Linked DNA regions of Homo sapiens. The protein of the gene in region 2 purifies or fractionates together with the protein of the main gene of each other region. This does not show direct contact. Each region holds a gene or a part of one and is shown on either strand. Other genes may lie near its edges.

Region 1 (5,194 bases), on a different chromosome or scaffold from region 2:
TTATTCCTTGAAACCAAGTTTGTTTCACTCCAAAAAAAGACTTTTATTATTTCAGAAAAGTTTTTCTCTTTCAAATATAAACACCAAGCAAATTCTTTCTTTCTTTTTTTTTTTTTTTTGAGACGGAGTCTTGCTCCGTCGCCCAGGCTGGAGTGCATTGGCGCAATCTCAGGTCACTGCAAGCTCCGCCTCTCGGGTTCACGCCATTCTCCTGTCTCAGCCTCCCACGTAGCTGTGACTACAGGTGCCCACCACCACGCCCTCTAATTCTTTATTTCAAAAGAGCAGACACTGGTTTCAAATATTCTACAACTTTCTGGCTAAAATTCTTTGCAGTATGGTTTTCACATGTTAACTTATCTCCAGAAAACAACTCTTAAAGGCTTTTTTTTTTAACTGACACATAGTATAGTTTCAAAACCCATTTAACTACATTCTAGTCTTTGATTTAACTACATGGTAGTCTTTGTGCAGAAAACAAAGGCACGGTCTCTTCATAGTCCTTTCAATAAAATATGAGTTCGTAGTCTCCATGTAATACTGTATACAGCTACTACTGCTGCTGCTACTTAAGTCATTAGACATTAAAATGAGTGACAGTTCTTTTTTAAAAAGATAAAATGATGTAAAACTAAATTTTTGTTTTCATGTCAACTGTAACAAAAAGCAGAGAAACTACAAAACACTACATATTTTATTTGCCAAGAAAATGTGACTATAACATGAAATAAAATCACCACAAGATAAAATTTCTTAATTTTATTATCAAATAGTTTTTAATGCCAAAACATTTAAATCCATAGTTTGGTATATTTGTTGTAACAATTGGTAACGATAAAATAACATTAGTACCAAAGTACCTGAAAAATGAGTTATGTAAATTTACAACATTTTTTTTTTACAAATTACTAATCTACGGGTTGTGAATTTATAATCAATATTAAAATTCAAAACACTAGCATACATATTAAAAACTGATTTGTAATAGTGATGAGGAAAACAGTTGTTACATAAAAACTGTATTAAAAAAGAAAACAAAATAAAATGACTATTTGGTGAAAAACAGTTTATAAAACGATTGCCTTATAACAGTACTAATCTCACTGGCAGGTAATATCTTAAAAATTCAGATATTTTTAAGATATTAAAAATTCAGATAATCTTACTGGCAGGTAATATCTTAAAAATTCAGAACAGAGAAAGGTTCTTTTATACCCAGAGAACTACATATACAAATCACATCTTTTTTTTTTAAGTTTTCAAAATGAGATATTATTATACATGATAAATACTAAAAATGTCAAAATAAGATATAGCGCAGAGAAGTTAAAATCTTTTAGTGAAGATCAAAAGCAAAAATGTAGAAAAAAATCCTAGAATACTGATTAAGATGAAGACTAAGACAACAAATACACAGTGAATTCTGGGATTTGTGACAGCCACGCCAAGTCACCCCTCAGTATCAATGGACAATGGTTTGATCCTCCCACAGATACCCGAATCCACAGATGCTCAAGTCTCTGATATAAAATGGTGTAGTACTTGCATATAACCGACACACAGCACACCCCATACATCAAATCATATCTAGATTACTTGTAATACCTAATGAATGTAAACAATATGTAAATAGCTGATACACTGTATTGTTTTATGGAACAGTGACAAGAAAAGAAAGTCTGTACATGTTCAGTATGAATGCAAATTTTTTTTCCAAATATTTTTGATCCAAGGTTGGTTGACTCCACAGATCCCCCAATCTGGAGGGTTGACGATACAGTGAAATTCACTGACACAGATTTTCCTTTTCTGATTTCTGTGACACAATTAGGTGAACAGGGTATGAAACCTCCTTTTGGCAGTGCGTTTCCACAGCTTCCCCATCATTCAAAGACACATTTCCTATGCACATACTGGAGGCACAGAACAAAAACCCAGTACAACAGAACTACTCAGAGCCTGCAACTTCACTCCAGGGAAAAACCCTTTACAGTAAGATACTTTATCAGTTTTCTTAAGAGCGGGAGGCTTGTGGTGAACATATAATCATCTGAAAGGTGTTAATGCTCAAATCAGTTGTATGGGTGGAAGGAAATTTTCCAAAAAAGGAAAAAAAATAAAGATGGGGATGAGTTATGCTGGGTGAAAGAAGTCAGTCAAAGGTATACAGGATTCCACCTATGTGACATTCTAGAAAAGGCAAAACTATAGGGAGAGAGAACAGATTAGTGGTTGCCAGAGGTTAGTGGGGAGGGGGGGGTGTGACTACAGGGAGATTTTTGGGGGTGGATGGAACAGCTTTGTATCCTGATTGTGGTGAGGGCTGCACAAATTTATACGAGTTAAAATTCATAGAACTGTACCATCCTCCAAAAGAAGTCAATTTTACAGAATAATAATTTTAAAAACAAGTATACATTTTTTTTAAAGATGGAGAGGCTAACAAACTTTGCAACCTTTCCAGGTAAGGATTCATGAGACCTGAGCAGCCAGCCAGCCCTGAAATGGTTGGAACAGGAGAAAGAAGAAGAGCTCGACAGATACCCTGCCTGGGCTGGCAGCCCAGCTGCACCACACGCTGGCCAGCTGACAGCGGGCACATCCCTTCATCACCCAGTGCCTTTCTTCCCTCTTGTGAAAATGGAGATATGCTGAGAAGGTTACCTCAGCTCATCCAGGGAAAGCTTCTTCAGCTAACTAGGCTGTAGAAAGGGCCTACAGTCTAGTTAAATTTCCAAAAACAAGTTAATGCCAGAATATAAACTCCATGAAGTAACAGATTGTGTCTGTTTCATTCCTGCATGTATCCCTCATGCCTAGACAGTGTCTGGCACACAGTACGTGCTCAACATTGACTGAATGTGAGGGAAAAACCTATGCAGTTCTATACCATGTAGACAGGATCATAAATGATCACTATTTAAATTGTGTGTGCTGCTTTCCTTGACAAGAGTAACCAAGAGTCAGCTCCTTCAAGCTGATAGGAAACCCTGCTTCCTGGAAATGAGTATATCGAAGAGATATCTGCACTTCCATGTTTGCTGCAGCTCTGTTCACAACATCCAAGATGAGAAAGCAACCCAACTGTCCATGAACAGATGAATGGATAAAGAAAGTATGGTACTTACACACAATGGAATGCTATTCAGCCATAAAAAAGAATGAGATTATGTCATTTTCAACAACATGGATGGTCATTATGTTTAGTGAAATAAGTCAGGCACAGAAAGACAAACATCACATGTTCTCACTCACTTGTGGGACCTAAAAATAGATACAACTGAATCATGGAAATAAAGAGTAGAAGGATGGTTACCAGAGGCTAGGTAGGGTAGCAGGGTGGCATGGGGGAGGTGGGGATGGTTAATGGCTACAAAAAAACAGGAAGATTGAGTAAGACCTACTATTCGATAGCACAACAGGGTGACTACAGTCAATAATAATTTAATTGTAGATTTTAAAATAACCAGAAGAGTATAATTGGATTGTTTGTAACAGAAAGGATAAATGCTTGAGGGGATGGATACCCCATTTTCCCTGATGTAATTACTATGCATTGCATGCCTCTATCAAAACATCTCATGTACCTCATGAATATATACATGTACCCACAAAAATTAAAAATAAAAAAAAAAGAAAATTTTGCTATCTCAGCAATGGATTTCCTAGTTGCTGAAGAGATCTAGGTATACACTTCTATTTCAAATTTAAAATGTTAAAAAAAAAAAGTCTTTACAATCATTTTGATGTCAAAACTTGGTTTTTAATTAAAAAAAAAAAAGCATTCCTGAAAAGGTTTATTAAAACTGGTTTTCACACCTCTTATGAAAAAGAAGTGGCTCACACTTATAATCCCAGCACTTTGGGAGGCCGAGGCAGGAGGTTCACTTGGGGCTAGGAGTTCAAGATCAGCCCGGGCAACACAGGGAGACCCTGTCTCTATTAAAAAAAAAAAAAAAAGAAAAAGGGGAATTTTGTTGTAAATGTACACATAAAGTGTTCTTAGAATTTTGGGAGACACTTTCATAAATGAAGAATCTCTGTCAAATGAATATATATGTAAATATATATTACCCAAATATAGCAAATATTTGCTATATTAGTATTCATTCATTATATATTACATGTATATTTTATTAAACATACGTATTAAAGTACAAGTTCTAAATATCACCTTTTCCTATAATATTTTCCCATTCCTAATGACATATTTCATCATAAAAAATTATACCCAATGGATCTCAGTTTCAGACATTTTTAACTTTATAATCTAATATTAATAGTAAACAACAAAGGATAAATTTCACTTAAATTTTAACAAGTTGAAAGAGAGGTAGCTTCAAGTCTGAGGTAAAGCACCTTACCAAGTCGGCCACTCTGCATAAGGAATCCGAGAGCTCATCGAAGATCAGCACGGTCTGGGGCCCAGGTGGGGTGGAACATGCACGGTCCACAAGCAATTCTGTCTTTCTCAAGGCTTTTTCTTGTGCAATATGAAATCCTTCTGGGGCACTCAGCTCAGGAACTCCAAAAAGACCCTTAGAACCAAAGAATACGTCTGATTTATAACCAAAATTCAAAATTGTGCTTTTTTTATATTTACTAAAATTACTTTTATCACAAAGGAGATCTTGACTTTCATTGGTGTATCATGTTATACCTGTGATCACAGATACCACTATCATACTCCCCATATCACTCCACATAAATTACACTAAAAATGTTTTCAGAACATAATTTTTCTTCAATTTTTAATTATTTTCCGGAAAAAACAACAACAACAATGGTATGGGTTCAAAATCCAGCTGTCACTTCTACAGAACCTAAGAGTGGCCGCAAAGATTAAATGAGATCATATATGTAAATATATATATATATATACATAAAGCAGTGTTTGGCACAGAGCATTTATAGATGTTAGCCATAATTATTATTAGCTTATAACCCTGGTCATGTTATTTCTCCTCCTAGGAGAAATATTTTTTTCATCATGTACAATGGGAATGACGATACATACCTTACAGCATGGATACAGGTAATAAGTATATGTAAAGTACTAACAGCAGCAGCTGACAAGGTGAGATCTCAGTACATAGTACCAATTATTCTATAACTATCAAATAGGGAGGATGAGTTGACTATGAAGCAATAGATATTTTAGAAAAATGTAATGAACATATTAAAATCATAGGCT
Region 2 (5,194 bases):
GGTCTCACAATGTTGCCCATGCCAGAGTGCAGTGGTGCAATTATACTTCACTACAGCCTTAAACTTCTGAGCTCAAGTGATCCTTCTGCCTCAGCCTCCTAAGCAGCTGGGACTACAGGTGTGTGTCACCATACCCAGCTGAATTTTTTTTTTTTTTTTTGAGATGGGGTCTTACTCTGTCACCCAGACTGAAGTATGATGGTGTGATCACAGCTCACTGCAGCCTTGATCTCCTGGGCTCAAGCAATCCTCCCACCTCAGCCTCCCAAGATGCTGGACCCACAGGCACGTGCCACCATGCCTGGAATTTTTAAAAAATTTTGTAGAGACAGGGTCTCCCTGTGTTGCCCAGGCTGGTCTTAAACTTCTGGGCTCAAGTGATCCTCCCACCTTGGCCTCCCAAAGTGCTGGGATTACAGGTGTGAGCCACTGTGCCCAGGCCTGGCTGATTTAAAAAAAAGAATTTTGAGAGACAAGGTCTCACTAAGTTGCCCAGGCTGGTCTTGAATTCCTGGCCTCAAGCTATCCTCCTGCCTCAGTCTCCCAAAACACTGGTATTACAGGCATAGCCACATGCCTGGCCCAAACTATTTCAACTGACCTTCATACAGTTATATTTTAAAAGATATAAACTCATACCTCTTTATACCCATGTCTCTAATTGCAGATGGAGGAGGGCCTATAAAAATAATTCCTTCTTGCTTACAAAGTTCAGCAAATTCCATGTTTTCTGAGAGAAAACCGCATCCTGGATGGATAGCCTAGAAATGAGAAATAAAATAAAAAATTTACTCATCAGTGCTCAACTGGCAACACCTTAATGCAGGTGAAGCTGTCTTCCTCTGGGAGGCCTCTCCCTACACTGGTAATAGTATGGTCTCTATTAAACTCTGTTTCCAAAGAAATATCTGAAATATTCATATGAAAGCTCTGAAGGCTTACCTAAACCAGATGAATCTATATTTCTTTTTATTGTGATAATATATACATAGCAAAACACTGACCATTTTAGTTACTTGCAAGTATGTAATTCAGTGGCATTAAGTACACTCACAATGTTGGGCAACTGTCATCACCATCCATCCTCAGGATGTTTTAATCTCCAAACATAATTCTCCATTCCCTCCCTTTCCTTAGTCCCTAGTAACCAGGATTTTACTTTCTGTTTATGAATTTCTCTAGCCAAAGTACCTCATGTAAGTGGAAGCGTATAATAATTTGTCTGAGTTTGGCTTATTTCACCTAGCATAATGTTTTCAAGGTTCATTCATGTAACATGTATCAAAATTCCATTTGTTTTTAAGGTTGAATAATATCCAGTTTGTACACATTTTGTTTATCCATTAATCTCTTGATGGACATTGTGTTATTTCTACACATTGTGAATACTGCTGCTGTGAACAACAAGTATTGGTATACAAGTATCTGTTTTGAGTCCCTGCTTTAAATTCTTCTAGCTGTATACCAAAAGTGGAATTGCTGGATCATATGGTACAGAAGTTTCTATATACTTAAATTTAAAATAATATTGCAATTAGGGTAGAATGTCAAGAAGTAAAGGGCTTCAGAGTGGTAAGGGGAATTTGTCTATTCTGTCTCTGTGTAAAACTGGCCTAGAATTGAAATCATGGCATCCAAAAGCCCCAAACAGAACACTAGCTCAATAAATACCTCACTTATCTTCAGGTCATCAATGTCATCTTTCCAGAAAAAAAGCTAAGAAGCAAATGAAAGTCATGTATTAAAGTCTACAGGAGTGTCCCCTTATCCAAGATCCCTAGTGGATGCCTGAAACTATGAATACTACAGAACTGGACTGATACCAATTTGACCACGCTTCTGTTCATGTCTTCCAATCACAAATGTAATGCCTTTCCCATCTTAACTAAGTACTTGCCATGCCCTGTGGCCATAAGTTTTGCAGTTTGAGGTGCAACAGGAAAATGACATGAATTTGTTTTTCCTTCTTCACAATTTCACAGATAGAAACTTGGTCCTTACCAAGAACCAAGAAACCTCAACATACATATTTTTTTCTTTCCTTGAGAATTTTCACCTTTTCACTTAAAAGAAGCATTTCATGGCTTCTCTTTAGCATAAGTGAATTGCCACCATCATTGCTCTTGCATTTTGGGGCCATGATTTAAATAAAATAAGGGTGACTTGAACACAAGCATGGTGGTACCATGACAGTCAATTTGATAACCTAGATGGCTCCTGAGTGACTAACAGATGGGGAGTGGAGACAGCGTGGAGACACTGGACAAAGGGACGATTCACATCCTGGGAGGGACAAAGCAGACTGTGCAAGATCTCACTGTGTGACTCAGAATGGCGTGCAATTTGAAACTTATCAATTGTTGATTTCTGGAATTTTCCATTTAATATTTTCACACCATAGTAGACTGCAGGTAACTGAAACCACTCAAAGCAAAACCGTGGATAAAGGGGACAACTGTACGTGTACTTTCAGTGAAAAGGGCATCCCTCAGACTTCAGCCTAGTTACTTCCAGTGTACTCAGAATTTTAACAAACATACTTACTGGGATTTTAGCCCACAGAAGAGGAAATTCAGTAACTGAAGGACAGCAAGATTTCTAAAAGTAAACACGCTGACAGCAAAAAGGGAAGAAACAGAAGGAGGCAAAAGGCAGAGAAGACTTGGATGATTTAATGAGTGATGAAGCCACACCCTCTCCAACATCAGTAGCCCTGAGGGGATTTGTTCTTCTAAAATGTGAGCGAGTATTATAATTATGACCAAAACAATGTAAAAACACAAAGGTTCAGCCAATCCTGTTTCAAAATAGTTACACTCAAAGAACATTTCAAAATTAAAGGGGTAAGCTTCACATATCTGGGAAACTCATACGAATAGAAAAACCCACATCCTAGTGACAGGAAACAATGCAATGCCAGATACAGATAAAATGCTGGATACTCATATGTTGCAGCCAGTTTAGAGTTTTATATCTTTTAAACCAAAGTTCAATTTTATTTTATTAACTTTTATTTTAGGTTTGGGGTGCATGTGAAGATTACACAGGTGAATACATGTCACAGGGGTTTGTTGTACAGAGTTCGTCACCCAGGTATTAAGCCCAGTATTCAATAGTTATCTTTTCTGCTCCTCTCCCTCCCACCTTCCCCACTCAGGTAGACCCCAGTGTCTTTTGTTTCCTTCTTTGTGTTCTTAAGTTCTTATCATTCAGCTCCCACTTCTAAGTGAGAACATGCAGTATTTGGTTTTCTGTTCCTGTGGGAGTTTGCTAAGGATAATAGCTTCCAGCTCCATCCATGTTCCCGCAAAAGATGTGATCTTATGCTTTATTATGGCTGCATAGTATTCCGTGGTGTATATGTACCACCTTTTCTTCATCCAATCTGTCACTGATGGGCATTTAGGCTGATTCAATGACTTTGCTATTGTGAATGATGCAATGAACATACATGCACATGTGTCTTTATGGTAGAATAATTTATATTCCTCTGGGTATCAACCAGTAATGGGATTGCTGGGTTGAATGGCAGTTTTGCTTTTAGCTCTTTGAGGAATCACCCTGCTGCTTTCCACAATGGTTGAACTAATTTACACTCCTACCAACAGTGTATAAGCGTTCCCTTTTCTCCACAACCTCCTGACATCTGTTATTTTTTTGACTTCTTAGTAATAGCCATTCTGACTGGTGTGAGATGGTGTCTCATTGTGGTTTTGATTTGCGTTTCTCTAATGATCAGTGATATTGAGCTTTTTTTCATGTTTGTTGGTCACATGTATGTCTTCTTTTGAGAAGTGCCTGTTCATGTCCTTTGCCCACTTTTTTTTTTTTTGAGACAGAGTCTTGCTCTGTCACCCAGGCTAGAGTGCAGTGGCATGATCTCATCTCATTGCAACCTCTGCTTCCCAGGTTCACGCCATTCTCCTGCCTCAGCCTCCCAAGTAGCTGGGACTACAGGTGCCTGCCACCACGCCCTGCTAATCTTTTTGTATTTTTAGTAGAGACAGGGTTTCACCATGTTAGCCAGGATGGTCTCATCTCCTGACCGTGTGATCTGCCCGCCTCGGCCTCCCAAAGTGTTGGAATTACAGACGTGAGCCACTGTGCCCGGCTGTCCTTTGCCCACTTTTTAATGGGGTTGTTTTTCTCTTGCACATCTGTTTAAGTTCCTTATAGATGCTAGATATTAGACTTTTGTCAGATGCAAACTTTGCAAATATTTTCTCCCACAATTTGAGTATTTTATATAAAATGGTCAAACATCTATACTAGGCAAATGAAACAGGTCTATGTCCTAGTCCTCCCTGGTTTGGGTTTTCTTTTGAGATATGATTTATAATACATAATATTCATGCATTTATAGTTTGGTGAATTTAGTAAATCTATACAATTGTGCAACTACAATTGGATCACTACAATCCAGTTTGAGAACACCTGCATCACTTGAAAAAGTTCCCATGTGCCCATGTGCAATCTGTTCCCAATACCCAAGCAACAACTGACTTGTTGTCTCTATAGTTTTGCCTTTAAAAAAATTCATATAAACAGAATCATACAGTACATAGTATTATGTGTCTGGCTTCTTTAACTTCACATAATTTTTCAAGGTTTATTCATGTTATGGAGTGTGTCAGTAGCTCATTTCTTTTTATAATATGGATTCTGTTATATGGATATACCACATTTTGTTTACCCATTCATTTGAATTATTTTCCAGTTTGTGGTTATTATGAATAACGGTGTTATAAACATTCACAGACAAGTCTGTGTGAACATATTTTTCATTTCTCTTGGGTAAATACCCAGGAGTGCAATTGTTTGGTCCTAATATGGTAAGAATACATTTAACTTTTCTAAAGCGATGATTTTATTTTGCATTTCTACCAGCAATTTATGATGCTTTAAAGTGTGTATCCATATCCCTGCCCACATGTTGTACTATCAGTCTTTCTGATTTTGGCCAATCTAGTGGGTGCATAGTGTTACTGCACTTTTTAAACATAGTTGTTGAGATATAATTCATATACCATAAACTCGGCCAACCCAATGATTTTTAGTATACTCAAAGTCGCACAATTATCACTATAATCTAAAATACTAAGATCTAATAATGTAAGTTTTTAACACTGCAAAAAGAAATCCTGTGCCTCTTAGCCATTCCTCACTCCCCATAAACCCCCAGCCCTAGGCAACT
Region 3 (5,194 bases), on a different chromosome or scaffold from region 2:
TGTGTGACTGTCTATGACATGATCACATTTTTGCAGACAAACGGTAATACGTATGCGTGCGTAGAAAAGGCTCTGGGTTTTAATGATCGCCATTCTAACTTGTGTGAGAACACATGGACACAGGAAGGGGAACATCACACACCGGGGACTGTTGTGGGGTGGGGGGCGGGGGGAGGGATAGCATTAGGAGATATACCTAATGCTAAAGACGAGTTAATGGGTGCAGCACACCAGCATGGCACATGTATACATATGTAACAAACCTGCACATTGTGCACATGTACCCTAAAACTTAAATTATAATAATAATAAAATTTAAAAAAATCAGTGATAATGTAATGGGTAATAAATGATATATAATTACTGTTTTTAATTTCCACAAATAAAAAAAAAAGAAAAAGAAAAGGCTCTGGGATGCCTGACAATGAATGCTAATAATGGGTAATAATGTTAATAATGCTAGTGTTAAAAATAGTGCTCTCTGGATGAGGGTCTTGTGATACTGTAAGACTAGTTGACCCAATAGAACCATCCCATCTTTATGCCTTTCTTAATTTTCTAAGTTAATAAGGAAAAAGGAAACGAAGTGTAAGAAACGGGATTTGAGGCTGGGCGAGGTGGCTCATGCCTGTAATCCCAGCAAAACTTAACTACTAATAGCCTGCTATTGACGAGACGGCTTACCAGTAACATAAACTGTCAATTAACACATATGTTTTATGTCTTATGTATTATATACCGTATCTCATAATAAAGGAAACTAGAGAAAAGAAAATGTTAATAAGAAAATGGTAAAAAGGAGGAAATATGTTTGCTATCCATTAAGTGGGAATGGATCAGCATAAAGGTCATTAGCATCATCTTCATGTTGAGGAGGAGGAGGAAGAGGAAGGGTTGGTCTCACCATCTTGGGATGACAGAGGCAGAAGCAATGGAGGAGGTGGAAGGGGAGGCAGGAGAGACAGACACATTCAACATAACTTTTTTTGAAAAACACCCATGCCCACTGGGCACAGTGGCTCATGCCTGTAATCCCAGCACTTTGGGAGGCCGAGGCGGGTGGATCACCTGAGGCCAGGAGTTCGAGACCAGCCTGGGCAACATGGCGACACCCCATCTCTACTAAAAATTAAAAAAAATTAGCTGGGTGTGGTGGCAGGCATCTGTAATCCCAGCTACTCGGGAGGCTGAGGCAGGAGAATTGCTTGAACCCAAGAGGCAGAGGTTGCAGTGAGCCAAGATCTCGCTATTGCACTCTAATCTGGGCAACAGAGTGAGACTCTGTCTCGAAAAAAAGAAAAGAAAAGAAAAGAAACTCACATATAAGTGGACCCGAGTTCAAACTTGTGTTGTTCAAGAATCAGATGTATATGGCATAGGCAAATGCTTGATGAAATAATGCATAAAGTCTCTTCTGAACCTTATGTCTGTCCTGTCCTATGATGGTTGATTGATGATTAAATGACTCTGTCCTGTGAACGACTAGAGGAAGTTAAGACACTCACGAACTCTGTTCCTAACAGATTACCCACGCTGTATCTTCCCTTTCATCTATCGAGGAAAGGCTTATAACAGCTGCATCTCCCAGGGCAGCTTCTTAGGCAGTCTGTGGTGCTCAGTCACCTCTGTCTTCGATGAGAAACAGCAGTGGAAATTCTGTGAAACGAATGGTGAGCCCCTGTAGCAGGGATGGGATGTGTGGTGGGAGGGAGAGTGGACAGCATGGATCCTCCTGAGGGGAGGCTGGGCAAGGTAGAGACCAGAGCACCCAGGGGGAAGTACTTACAGGAGCCAAGTGTCTGCTCAGAGAGTTCGCTATGACAACGACAGACAGGGGTATCCCGAGGCCATTCGCCCAGTCCCCAGTCCAGCATGAAAAGACAGGAGTCCTGAGAACTGAAACAATGAGCTGAAGTCCTGATATTGGCTTCTGAGTATTTCTGTTTCTAGAACTGACAATAGTGAGATTCACCCACTGATGGACCCAAACTGCCTTTTCTTTCCTTCCTTCCTTCCTTGCTTCCTTCCTTCCTTTCCTTTCTTTCCTTTCCTCCCTCCCTTCCTCCCTCCCTCCCTTTTCTCTTTCTTTTCTTTCCTTCTTTCTTTCTTTCTTTCTTTCTTTCTTTCTTTCTTTCTTTCTTTCTTTCTTTCTTTCTTTCTTCCTTCCTTCCTTCCTTCCTTCCTTCCTTCCTTCCTTCCTCCCTTCATCTCTCTCTTTCTTTCTTTTTCTCTTTCTTTCTTCTGTTTTTTACAGGGTCTTGCTCTGTCACTCAGGCTGGAGTGCAGTGGAATGATCTCAGGTCACTGCAACCTCTGCCTCCCAGGTTCAAAGGATTCTCCTGCCTCAGCCTCCTGAGTAGCTGGGATTGCAGGCGCCCACCACCACACCCAGCTAATTTTTGTATTTTTAGCAGGCACGGGGTTTCACCATGTTGGCCAGGCTGGTCTTGAACTCCTGGTCTCAGGTGATCCATCCGCCTCGGCCTCCCAAAATGCTAGGATTACAGGCATGAGGCACTGTGCCTGGCCCTGACCTGCATTTCAATGCAGCCTAACATCATATTAAGTCTACACATAATCTTAGGTGAATAATGACCAAAATTCATTGAATGTCCTCTCTGTCCTACACTGATCCAAGAGCTTTGTATACAATATCCTGTTGAATCTTTCCATAGCAGCTCTATGAGCTGCTGCTCGCCACCACCTGTTCAATAAATGGTCCCAGTATAACTGAGCCCTTCCCAAGGTCACAGTCCTACACTATATTAGAATTAGAGCTTGAGTTCTAGTCCATATAGTTCCAAAGCCCATGCTCTCTCCTTAAGCATTGTTGCGTCCACAGAGACAAAGATGTGTGAAGGCAGTTATTCGTAGGCATGCTTACTCTTGCGTAAAAATCTTAATTCTGTTGTTCCCTTAGCACTCAACAAATCCTAATTCCATCTAAACCTTAATTTTATTCTAGCCCTAATCATCCACCATTTGTGTTCTTTACTATAAACAAAACTTAACCTTAAATCTCACTATAGCTTTGTCCTAGTAGTTAACCTAATCTTTCATCCCAAGTCCAACTCTTTCTCCATTTCCATTCCTAACTCTAAATTGTATCATTAATACATACATTCCATCATTAATAAATACATTAATAATATACTCTGTCATTAATACATCATTAATTCATAACCTTAGCCATTTCTTAACCCTAAACCAAATAGATGAATTAGGAAAGGTATCAGTGAGACCAGGCTCAGTGGCTCATGCCTGTAATCCCAAAAGGGATTGGGAGGCTGAGGCAGGAGAATTGCCTGAGGCCAGGAATTTGAGACCAGCCTAGGCAACATAGGAAGACCCGCTCTGTAAAAACAAGAATTAAAAAATTAACTGATCATGGTGGTGCGTGCCTGTAGTCCCAGCTACTTGGGGAGGCTGAGGTGGGAGGATTCCTTGAGCCCAGGAGTTTGAGGCTGCAGTGAGCTATGATCACATCATGGCATTCCAGCCTGGGCAACAGAGTGAGATCTTGTCTCAAAAAAAAAAAAAAAAAAAAAAAAGGAGGAAAAGAAACATCACTTTTGTGGTAATATAACCTTAATATCTAAGCTCCTGTTTATCCTTAAAACTATCCAATCTCCTTAGACCCAGTTTTGATGGAGTAACAGATTCAAATTTGCATAAATCACCAAACGGATGTCCAAGAAGAGATACCTTTTAGCTTTGGCTTCCCCATTAGGTTAAGAAAGTTGTTGATTATTTCCTTTCTATGGATAAGTGAGAACCAAGACCACCCATGGCTGCATGCTACTGTCTCCATGAACATAGCTTTACCGCTTCACAGTCATCATCAACTTGACTCTACTAACCCAGGAAATTCGTGCCTGGGAAGTCACTTTTATTATCTGCAAAATGAGAATGCTAAGGCTGGCATCACAGGGTTTTTGTAAAGACTGGAGTTTATTTTCATGCAGGATTGATGGTGATGCCATACCAGGTACCCAAGAAATGTGAGCTTTCTTCTGCTATCATCTGAGACACTAGGCAAAAAAATGGGCTTTGAAGTTAGACCCGAGTTGGAATTCTGTTGTTTCCCTTACCATCTATGTGATCTTGGACACATTAGATCATAGAAGTAATAATTATCATAACATAATGAACTTTTAATAAGCATTTTCTATGTGCCAGGCAGTATTTTAAGTGCTTCACATGAAATAACTCATCTATTCCATACAATAATCTCTATCAGGTAAATGTGATTATTAGCCCAGTTTTACACATGGACAAACTGAGGTTAATAGAAGCAAAGCTGTGATTTTGATCCCAGGAAGTCTAACCTTCAGAATTTGTGCTCTTAATCACCAGTCATTACTGCCTGAAAACCCCAACCCCTTAGTCAAATTCTAGCTCCCCATGAAAGACCACCAAAGGAAATTAAAAAAAAAAGCCTGCTAATTAGGCAAGACTGAGTTTATTGCTCACTTCCTTGACAGCATCTTAATAACGTCTTGGGCTGGGCGTGGTGGCTCATGCCTGTAATCCCAGCACTGTGGGAGGCCGAGGCAGGTGAATCACCTGAGGTCAGGAGTTCAAGACCTGCCTGGCCAACATGGTGAAACCCCTTCTCTAATAAAAATAGAAAAATTAGCGACGCATGGTGGTGCATGCCTGTAATCTCAGCTACTCGGGAGGCTGAGGCAGAAGAATCTCTTGAACCCGGGAAGTGGAGGTTGCAGTGAGCCGAGATCGTACCACTGCACTCCAGCCTGGTTGACAGAGAAAGACTCCATCTAAAAAAATAAAAAATAACGTCTCGAAGTGGGGAGGGAAAACTCAGCATATTGATGGGGTCTTGGAGTCTCGTCTAAGGTGGGTCTTTCAATGGGGGATGTGATTTGGATTGTGTAAGGATCATGATATAATAGTTAGGATTGGTGTTCACAGCAAGGTGAAATGACCAAAGATGGGGTTTTAAAGAGTCTAGGAGAGTAAATAGTGTTTTGACACAATCGATATTTATGTAACTAGCTTTTCTGGAGGCTTCTGGAATGAATAATAGGGCTATTCGCAACTCTTATCTTCCTGGGCAAGAATTTCCTAGCTTAGTAGAGTCAAGGTGATGGCGACCGCAGAACCGTGAAGTCGTGTTAATAGAGACAGTAAGCTGTGCACGAGTTGATAGTTTTGGTTCTCACTTATCCGT
Region 4 (4,195 bases), on a different chromosome or scaffold from region 2:
AGATACTGAGGCATGAGAGAGAGAGGCTCAGGTGGACCGCACAAACACAGCTCACGAGACTCTCTGCAGTAGCCTCCCAACTGGTCTCTCTGCATCCCTCCTTGGCCACTAAGTGTATGATTTGCACCCTAGCCAGAGTGATCCTATTAAACCCCACTGCAGACCACGGCTCACTTTGCTCAAATGCTCCATGGCTCCCACCTCCCTCAGAGAACAAGCAAAGTCCACTAGGTTCTGCAAAGCCCTAAATGACCTGACCCTGTTCCCTCTGAACCCTATCCCCAGTCTTTTACTCCATTCCAGACCTGCTGGGCCCCTGGCTGTTTCCCATTAGGCCAGCATACTCCTGCCTAGGGCCTTTGCACCTGTTATTTCTCTGCCTGGAATGTTCTGGTGGTTCACTGAGGACTCGGCTCCTTTGCACAGAGTTTCCTGGCCACCACCCCCATCACTTCCATATTTTTATCCAGCTTTATTGTTCTTGGTATTTACCGCCTCCCAACATTATAGCCCTCATCGACCTGTTTATTTACTTTCTGTCTCTCCCACAGAAGGTGAGAACCTGGAGGGCAGGACATTGTGCCCTGTCCTTAGGCCTTGAACAGGGCATGGCATTTGCTGAATACACTGAACAGGGCATGGCATTTGCTGAATACATTAATGACAACAGAGACTGACCCACAGAGAGGTGGAAGGGGAAATAATGGATAGATGAATGGAAGGAAGGAGGGAAGAAAGGAAGGAAGGAAGGAAGATCAGATGGACACATTGATGGACAAGTAGATTGAAAGAAAAATTGATGGATAAGTGGATAAAAGGATAGATAGAAAGATGCGTGAGTGGAAGGAAAAATGGATGAATTAATGGAAAGAACAAATATAGGAAGATGGAAGGAAGAATGAATGGATGGATGGGTAAGTGGGTGGATGAATGGATGGATGGATGGATGCATGGATGGATGAATGGGTGGTAGGTAGTTGGATGGATGAATGAATGGGTAGATGGGTGGGTGGGTGGATGGATGGATGGGTGAGTAGATGAATGGATGGGCACATGGGTGGGTGAATGGGTGGATGAATGGGTGGGTGGATGGATGGATGGATGGGTGAGTAGACGAATGGATGGGCACATGAGTGGGTGAATGGGTGGATGAATGGGTGGGTGGGTGGGTGGAAGGATGATGGATGGATGGGTGAGTGGATGGGCAGACTGACAGACATTCAGATGGAAACATGCAGCAGCAGACAAACACAAGATCAGGGCAGTAGGGGCACATGGCTCTGCCTGAAAGGATTAGAGCCTAGGATATGGGCAAATTTCCCAGCCCCTTCCTGGGAGTCTCAGAACACTCAAGCCCCAGCCTCCTTCAGCACGCCTCTCCCACAGGTCCCGCCCCAGGCCTGGCTCCCTCAGGAAGTGATGCCGAGGAACGTGGCGGGTGGGGGACCAACCCCAGGCTTTATTGAGCAGATTCCAGGGAAGGGTGGACAGGTCGGCCCTCGCCCCAACCCTGGAGCCTCCTCTTCTTGCCCTTGCAGCCCCCCAGGGTGGGTCTGGGTCCTTGAAGTCTGGGTGCCTTTCAGCTGCTGGGGAAGCGGCCCCGCTTGTGCCACTTCTGGTCACGGATGCGGCGCACAGACTGCAGCTGCGGCTGGCTGGCGTCCCACTCATTCCAGTGGCGGTACTCGCCCCGCTCAAACACGTACTGGCGCCCACGGTAGCCGGGGAACTCATAGCCAACCCACCTGCCGGGAGACCAAGGTTGAGATGTGGACGGTCTGCTTCCAGTCACCCTGCCTCCAGCCAGCATCTGACCATGCACTCTGCCTGCCTACATTCCTCTTTAGCTCCCCAGAGCCCTTGGGATGAATCCAAACTCTTTACCCTGCTCACAGGACCCTTAACAAAGCATCTCTAGCCTTATCTCTCAACATCCCATTCACACTCAACACCGTGGCCTCTCTTATTCTACTTTCCCGGAACCTGCTGTGTTGGGGGGCCTTTGTATGCATGATTCCTTCTGCCTGGAACACTCTTGCTCACCTCATCCCTCTCCTTCCCCCTTTTTTCCACTTGCATCCATTACAGCTCAATTTAGATGTCTCCAGACTCCTGCAGGCTGAATCGAGTACCTCACTGGGACTCCCAGAGCCCCTTGTGCATCCCAGTCCCAATCCTGATCACAATACGTTGTGAATACCTGTTACTTTGTCTGTCTCTCCATCAAACTATGTAATTTTTCTTTTTTTAGATGGAGTTTCGCTCTTGTTGCTCAGGCTGGAGTGCAGTGGCGTGATCTCGGCTCACTACAACCTCCACCTCCCAGGTTCAAGTGATTCTCCTGCCTCAGCCTCTTGAGTAGCTGGGATTACAGGCATGCGCCACCATGCCCGGCTAATTTTGTATTTTTAGTAGAGACGGGGTTTCTCCGTGGTGGTCAGGCTGGTCATGAACTCCTGACCTCAGGTGATCCGCCCACTTCGGCCTCCCAAAGTGCTGGGATTACAGGCGTGAGCCCCAGACTACGCAAATTTTTTGAGGGCCAGAGGATGTGCCATTCTTGTTGTTCTCTGTATCAGCACACCAGCATATAGTAGATGTTCAGTAAAAAATTGTTGAATAAATTATTATCAGGGATAGGTGGCACCTCTCAAGGCCCAACCCCAGATTACAAGCCCACAAGTGAGATGTAACCACCTACAAAAAGCAGGTGATCCTAAGACTGCATCAACGGTGATATTAAGCCTAGAAAGAGGGAGGTGATAAGCCTGCTCTCCTCTGTACAACTTGTGTCACATCTCAATAACTGCATACATCCTGGGCCCCTTGTTAAGAAGAACAAGAGTTGTGAGGGGGAAGAACATTTCAAGAATCAGTTCAAGGGTGTGGGGATGTTTAAAAAAGCAGGAAGGACTCAGATGGGAACAGGTGGAGAGAACAGATTTTACTTGTTTTAAGTCAAGGCTGCCTAGAAATCTCAACAGTACAGGAGTGCAGGGAACATGAATCATGCAAGAAACTATAGGCACCGATGGCCGGGCGCCGTGGCTCACACCTGTAATCCCAGCACTTTGGGAGGCCGAGGCGGGCAGATCATGAGGTCAGGAGATTGAGACCATCCTGGCTAACACGGTGAAACCCCGTCTCTACTAAAAATACAAAAACTTAGCCGGGCGTGGTCGTGGGCGCCTGTAGTCCCAGCTACTCGGGAGGCTGAGGCAGGAGAATGGCATGAACCCGGGAGGCGGAGCTTGCAGTGAGCTGAGATCGCGCCACTGCACTCCAGCCTGGGCGACAGAGCAAGACTCCGTCTCAAAAATAAATAAATAAATAAATAAAATAATAAGAAACTATGGGCACTGATTCTGTTTGGAGCCAGAGGCATGGCTGACCAGAAGATGGGGCAAGGGTGAGGGTTGGGTCCCTTACGTCCCGTTGATGGCACGGACACTCGCCACACGGTCCTGGAAGCCATGAGCCCACAGGCTGGGCACGTCATCATCCACTATCTCCATCTTGCGGCCACTGAAAGCTGGGTTCTCAAACAGATGCAGCTTGTGATGTGGACTATCCTGAGGGCAATATCGTGGGGTGAGCGGCTGCTCCCATATCCAGAACAGAGGTCAAGGAGGCTCCAGATGCCGGAAAGAATCAACAGGTCACCACAAAATAACACCCACCCCCAAACCTGCTGCAGGAGGGAAGGGCCTCAGGAGATGCCTCCACCCCCAAATTCACTGTAGGAGGGACGGGGAGATTCCTCCAAAGCTGGTTGATTTAGGAACCTAGAGCCGTAGATTATAAAACTGAAAAGGAATTTCCAGATCTTGTTCAATCCCATCATTTAAATGATAGAGAAACTGAGGCCAGGAGAGGGTGGACAGAGATCAAAAGTATCAACATATGAGCTTTCCCTCTTTCCTAACCAGATGCCGGTTTAATCTTCCCAGTTTCCCCTCTTCCACTGCCCTCTAAGGAGGACTCAGTTATGTGACAAAGAGAAAGGGCTGGAGCAGCTGCGGGGTGTGAGTGAAGCAGGGGAGGGAGAAGGGTGGTGTTTAAAGTGTCACTGTGGGCCGGGCGTGGTGGCTCAGGCCTGTAATCCCAGTACTTTGGGAGGCCGAGGCAGGCAGATCACTTGAGGCCAGAAGTTCAAGACCAGCTTTGCCAACATGGCAAAACGCCACCTCTACTA

The links.
Region 1: the proteins of MCCC1 (region 2) and MIPEP fractionate together in Homo sapiens (co-fractionation; one large-scale study listed by BioGRID). This does not show direct contact.
Region 3: the proteins of MCCC1 (region 2) and ELSPBP1 purify together in Homo sapiens (co-immunoprecipitation; one large-scale study listed by IntAct). This does not show direct contact.
Region 4: the proteins of MCCC1 (region 2) and CRYBB3 purify together in Homo sapiens (co-immunoprecipitation; one large-scale study listed by IntAct). This does not show direct contact.

The regions. Positions count from the first base shown.
Region 1 is NC_000013.11:23,881,969-23,887,162, forward strand, and holds part of MIPEP (mitochondrial intermediate peptidase), read right to left. Parts: intron 4,539-5,194; coding exon 4,365-4,538; intron 1-4,364. UniProt on the Homo sapiens protein: Cleaves proteins, imported into the mitochondrion, to their mature size.
Region 2 is NC_000003.12:183,071,727-183,076,920, forward strand, and holds part of MCCC1 (methylcrotonoyl-CoA carboxylase subunit alpha, mitochondrial isoform 1 precursor), read right to left. Parts: intron 762-5,194; coding exon 640-761; intron 1-639.
Region 3 is NC_000019.10:48,014,370-48,019,563, forward strand, and holds part of ELSPBP1 (epididymal sperm-binding protein 1 precursor), read left to right. Parts: intron 1-1,523; coding exon 1,524-1,670; intron 1,671-5,194.
Region 4 is NC_000022.11:25,204,597-25,208,791, reverse strand, and holds the end of CRYBB3 (beta-crystallin B3), read right to left. Parts: intron 3,573-4,195; coding exon 3,430-3,572; intron 1,746-3,429; coding exon 1,580-1,745; 3' UTR 1,433-1,579; downstream 1-1,432. UniProt on the Homo sapiens protein: Crystallins are the dominant structural components of the vertebrate eye lens.